2 separate regions of the Homo sapiens genome follow, and region 2 is linked to region 1. Evidence: fine-mapped expression QTL. A gene starts in region 1. The other region holds a variant in brackets. All regions are shown on one strand. Distances are between the middles of the regions.

What was found. PIP is the estimated chance that this variant, and not a neighbour inherited with it, causes the effect.
Region 2: its variant is the best candidate, but not a certain one, in a credible set for the expression of BTBD1 in whole blood (INTERVAL, PIP 0.61).

Annotation. Positions count from the first base shown.
Region 1 is chr15:83,065,862-83,068,768 of GRCh38, forward strand. BTBD1 (BTB domain containing 1) reads right to left here and starts at 1,391. Exons shown (of 8, transcript NM_025238.4): 1 at 890-1,391. The coding sequence starts at 1,290. It overlaps MIR4515 (microRNA 4515), which reads left to right and starts at 1,474; the gene lies at 1,474-1,554. RefSeq lists silencers at 709-878, 1,119-1,598 and enhancers at 1,659-1,778, 1,789-1,838.
Region 2 is chr15:83,088,965-83,091,871 of GRCh38, forward strand. No RefSeq gene overlaps it. Among named protein-coding and RNA genes, the nearest start is that of TM6SF1, 17 kb to the right of the region's middle. The variant C/CA (reference allele first, on the strand shown) is at 1,419.

The DNA.
Region 1 (2,907 bases):
TCAAGGGAGGGATTCATTTATAAGCAAATGTGACCTTGTGTGTAGAAACACAAAGCAGGTAAAGCCTCACTTGTCTGTTTTCGTATTTACTTTCCTGGGTCTTGACAACTAATACGTTAATGAAAAACAAAAACAAAAACAAAAAAGTGGCCAGGCGCGGTGGTTCACGCCTGTAATCCCAGCACTTTGGGAGGCCGAGGTGGACGGATCGCTTGACCCCAGGAGTCCGAGACCAGCCTGGGCAACATAGTGAAACCCTCTCTCTACCAAAAATAAAAATAAAAAAAATTAGCCGGGCGTGGTGGCGCGTGCCTGTAGTCCCAAATACTCGGGAGGCTGAGGTCGGAGCATCACCTGAGCCCGGAGAGGTCGAGGCTGCAGTGAGCCATGATCGCGCTACAGCATTCCAGCCTGGGCAACAGAGCAAGACCTTGTCTCAAAAAAAGCGGGGGGAAGGGGGTGACAATAACCCCAAAACATCAGTCCTGCAAGATTTTTCAACTACTCTCTTCCCCCAAACAAAAACATAAAACTTCGCAAATGGGCAATCAGGACAACCTGATCTGCCCCTCTATCCTTGCCACTTGTCTAATTCTGAAGTCTGAGCGACAATCCATAATTGGAATGCGAAACGCCTTTCAATGGTAAAACGCACGCTTGCCTAATGAAGACACTAACGTTTAGTTGGCGACTGAGCCGTCCTGGTTCACAGATTTCGATTTCGACCCTCCGGAGCATCAACGGCTCGGGAGGAAACTGAGGCCCCGGGCGGGTCAGAAGAGCCCAGCCCAAGGTCATCCGGGAGTCCGGGTAGGCCGGGCCCCGGGGATCTCCCAGCCCGGCCCGGCCCGGCCCGGCCCGGCCCGGCCCGGCCCGCGCTGCCGCTCACCTCAGCAGCGCCAGGAAGGCTGCGGGCTCCACGTCCGGCAGCTCGATCTCGGCCGACGTGGTGGCCATGCCGCCGTTGAACATGGCGTCAAAGACGGCGCTGCCGGCCGCCAGCACGAAGCGGTGGGCGGGGATGCGCTGCGGGCCCCCAGCGGCGGCGGCGCCGCGACCCTTGCCCAGTACGAAGCGCACATCGCTCAGCAGCTCCGAGTTGAAGAGGAAGGCGAAGCGCTCCTTCAGCGACGCCTTGGTCGCCTGCCAGTTGTAGAGAGGTTCCCGCTGCAGGGGGAGCAGGGGCCCCAGAGAGGACGGTGAGGGCGGCGGCGGCGGCCCCGCGGGGCCCGGCTCCGCCTCAGCCCCCGACGCCTGCTCCCCAGCTGCGGCAGGCCCGAGTGAGGCCATCCTCCAGCTGCGCGGTTGCCCACGTTATGGACAAAACTCCGCCGCCATCGCCCAGGCCGCCTCCGGAGGCCGGCGCTGCCTCCCTGCCTTCCGGGAAAGGCGCTTCCGGGGGCCTCGCGCCTCCGCAGGCCCCTCCCTGACCGCGCGCGCCCCCGCACGCCCGGGTTGCCGCTGTGCGCGGCCGCGGGAGGTGTAACAGGACTGGACTCCCGGCAGCCCCAGGGCAGGGGCGTGGGGAGCTGGTCCTAGCTCAGCGCTCCCGGAGGTGGAGCTTCTGCAGGCTGGGTGCTGCCGGGCCTACGGGCACCCACCCCCTGGCTCAGTGCCCTGGGTATTCTGACTCAGTAGGTCTGGGGTAGGGCCTGAGAATTTGTAATTTTAAGATGCATCGTGGATCTGCAGGCGGCTCTCACGGCTGCCTTTTTCTTCCTGCAGGCCCCTTATCACCAAGTCCAGCGCCCCCATTGTGTATCTGGGACATGTCCCAAGGCCTGTCCCGAGGAGTGTTTTGCCTGGAAGTGGAGGGGCAGGAAAGTATGGCCAAGGGAACACGTGAGGGAGGGGATGACATGACTTCCCACAACCCTGTACCCCAAGCGTGGCCAAGTCGCCGCTCCAGAAGGCCGCGAAACCCGTGGAAATTCCGGAAGCAGAGGTGGAAGGCTTAGAACCCCAGTGACCTCTCCCCAGGTCCGCAGGTCCCTTTCCCTTCTAATTGACCCTTTGGTTCCGTCCTCTGGGCCTAAGAGACATTTCCTTCTACTGCTTCCACCCCTGTATTTGAAACCCCTCGTGCTTGCCCACCTTCTCTTGTAGCGCTTTTCAGTCCTTGCACTGAACCACTGCCTAAGCTTGAAATTTAAAAAATTAAAAACTAAAACACACACACAATGGAAAAGGCTGTATTATCCCTTCCCAGGCAGTATTTACAACCCGGTCATCATGATTGGGGGACCGAGGCCTTCCTTTTTCTCCCTTCAGTGAGGCAGGCCCTGAGTTAAGTCAGCTGTCAAAAGCAGAACGTAGAAAACCCAAGAAATAGTCCTTGACCAGGCACGTATAGTTGGAAACACCTGTTCTTTGCAGGAAGAGCCTTACAGATTACAAATGCCGTCAAGTAAATAGTAAACCCCAAACCTGGGTTTCTCCTGTAAAATCACTCCACTTGTGAAACCACCAGAGGGGACTTCCAGCTGTTAGGCATTTAGAATGGTAACTTCTTTGGGAGAGGAACGTGCTTGGGAAGAGACTTAAAGTAGTAGGGGCTGAAATAGTGGATGCACAACCCCTTCCCCATTGCCAGCCGGCAATTCCTAAAGACAAAGGGACATCATGCTACTAATGATACCATTATCACACCTAACAAAATTAACCATATCATCAAATCATCTATATATGATTTTTTTTTTTTTGAGACGGAGTCTCGCTCTGTTGCCAAAGCTGGAGTGCAATGGCATGAAGTCTGCCTTCCGGGCTCAAGCGATTCTCCTCCTCAGCCTCCCGAGTAGCTGGGGTTACAGGTGCGTGTCACCACATCCAGCTAATTATTTGTATTTTTAGTAGAGACGGGGTTTCACCATATTGGCCAGGCTCCTCTCCAAGTCCTGACCTCGTGAT
Region 2 (2,907 bases), 23 kb after region 1:
CATGTCAAACTGAACTGACTACATCTCCTTCCCTGGAGCCTCTTTCAATTCCTTGTAAGTAAATTTCTGCTACCTTAAAAAAAATCCAGCCAAAATCCTGGTAGTGAAGCGGGAAGAATGTCTGGCTGTCTGACGATAGCCTGTGGCCTCAACAGATCATTTATATAAGAATGTGACAGAAATGTGCTAGCTATGTCATACAGTTGTGTCCAGAGATGAGGGGAAAGAGTTCATCACATTCCTATTTCAGGGAATAACACCACCAACCAGTTAGCCACATGCTGTGGTAGAAACTAGCTAAGCCCCAGTTGCTATCCTGCTATCCTGGTCTACTCATCAATAGCTAGGTGAATTTGGGCAAGGATTTTTGTTTGTTTGTTTGTTTGTTTGTTTGTTTTTAATTGAGACAGAGTTTCTCTCTTGTTGCCCAGGCTGGAGTGCAGTGGCGCAATCTCAGCTCACTGCAATCTCTGCCTGCTGGGTTCAAGTGATTCTCCTGCCTCAGCTTCCTGAGGAGCTGGGATTACAGGTGCGCGCCACCACGCCCAGCTAATTTTGTATTTTTAGTAGAGACGGAGTTTCACCATGTTGGCCAGGCTGGTCTCAAACTCTTGACCTCAGGATATCTGGCTGCCTTGGCCTCCCAAAGTGCTAGGATTACAGGCGTGAGCCACTGTGCCCGGCCTGGGCAAGGTTTTAAACCTTGCTAGGTTTCTATTTCTTCTTCTGTCAAATGGGGATAATAACATTGTTGTTTACCTACCTAGGATAACATAAAAGATCAGATTGTTCAATTAGACTCACAGGACTCAGTAATCTTATCCAGTATTGGCCTTTACTGAGAATTCGAAAGATACACATGATATTGAGACTTGGGCCAAGCACAGAGATGCTGAGGACCACCAGTGCAGCTCCCGGTCCTCTCTCGCCATATTAGGATGCACCCTGGCACAAAATGGACATAGGAGGTTTTTAAGTGATGCATGCAGGATATAACTTACACAAAGAGGTCAGGAAACACCTTCGTTTTATACTTCAGTAATTACACAGCTGACAGATCAGCTATATCCTGGTAAATTATTGCATAAATAAGGGCTTTTTGTTATCTTTCTGATTGTAAATGCCATCAATAAGTATTTAGGAGATTGGGCCAGGTGTGGTGGCTCACGCCTGTAATCCCAGCACTTTGGGAGGCTGAGGTGGGCGGATCACAAGGTCAGGAGATTGAGACCATCCTGGCCAACATGGTGAAACCCTATCTCTACTAAAAATTAGCTGGGCGTGGTGGTGCCTGCCTGTAGTCCCAGCAACTCAGGAGGCTGAGGCAGGAGAATCGCTTGAACCTGGGAGGTGGAGGTTGTAGTGAGCCGAGATTGTGCCACTGCACTCCAGCCTGGCAATAGAGTGAAACTCTGTCT[C/CA]AAAAAAAAAAAAAGCATTTAGGAGATTGACCTGGGTCAATTCTTTTTTCTTTTTGTCCCCTTTCCTCAGATGTTCTGAAGGTTGGAAATATGACTTACTACCATTACCTAACAGTTATTTCTTCTTCTTTCCTAGTTAATACAACCTGATTTCATTTGGGCCACAACATGTACAAAGAAGGAATACCTGTCCCCAGGCCTCAGAGAAAAGTCATGATTGATTGAAGCTTAGCCCGTTCCCCTGCTAGAGATTGCTTCTGAACTCAGCATGTGGCCAATTATGGCCAATGAGATGGAAGAGTCTGGAAGCAGGCTTTTGGAAAGATTCTTGTAGCCTAGTTAAAGATAAAATCCCGGAAAGGGAAAAGCCTTGTGTTGACAAGCTTAAGAGTGAAAAACCAACGTGTTGAGGAGGAGGATTAGGAAGACATAAAGAGGCCGGGTTCTTAATGACATCCTTGAGCCACTGCAGCTAAAAAGGAAACTTCTTTCTCCAGGATTCTTATGTCAGATTTTCAAATGTCTTCATGGCTTAAACCAGATTTATGCATTCTGTTACCTGTAACTTCATGTGTTCCCAGTGAAAACAGTACCTTGTAGAGTTGCTTGAGAATCAAGACAGGCACTGAAAGTAATGCGTCAAGCATACAACAAGTTTCTATCTTATAAGCACTACCCAACATCTTTTTCTCCTTTCTTCCCTGGTTTATAAAACTTGATTTTATTTGGGCAGCCACAAGCACAAGGAAGGAGGACCTTGTTTCCAGGCCTCAGAGAAGAACCCAAATAGGTCTCAGCATCTCTCAGTATACCTTAGTCCTTTTAGTTCCCTTTCCTTTTCCTTCTCCCAGCCAGCTGTCATCCCTAAATTCTTCTGTGGTCCATGTTTCTCAACATCCATTTAATCATCAAACTCTTAGATTTGATTCCTAATTAACCTTTCCTTTCTCCTTTCGTTGCAGCCGCCATAGTCAAGACCCGTTCATTTGTAGCTTAGATTACTGCTCTTCTCAGCTCTTTGCTGCCTAGTTCATACCCCCTCACCTCATTCTCTGTATATCTACCAGACTAAGCTACTAAAATGGCCAAGCTGAGCATGTCACTCCTCTGCTTAAAAGTTTCACTAGGATGGGCGCAGTGGCTCACACCTGTAATCCCAGAAATTTGGGAGGCTGAGGCGGGCAGATCACCTGAGGTCAGGAGTTCGAGACCAGCCTGGACAACATGGAGAAACTCCATCTCTACTAAAAATACAAAATTAGGCCGGGCGCAGTGGCTCATGCCTGTAATCCCCGCACTTTTGGAGGCCAAGACGGGCAGCTCACAAGGTCAGGAGTTCAAGACCAGCCTGGCCAGCATGGTGTAACCCCGTTTCTACTAAAAATACAAAAATTAGCCAGGCATGGTGGTGTGTGCCTGTAGTCCTCAGGAGGCTGAGGCAGGAGAATCGCTTGAACCTGGGAGGCGGAGCTTGCAGTGAGCCGAGATC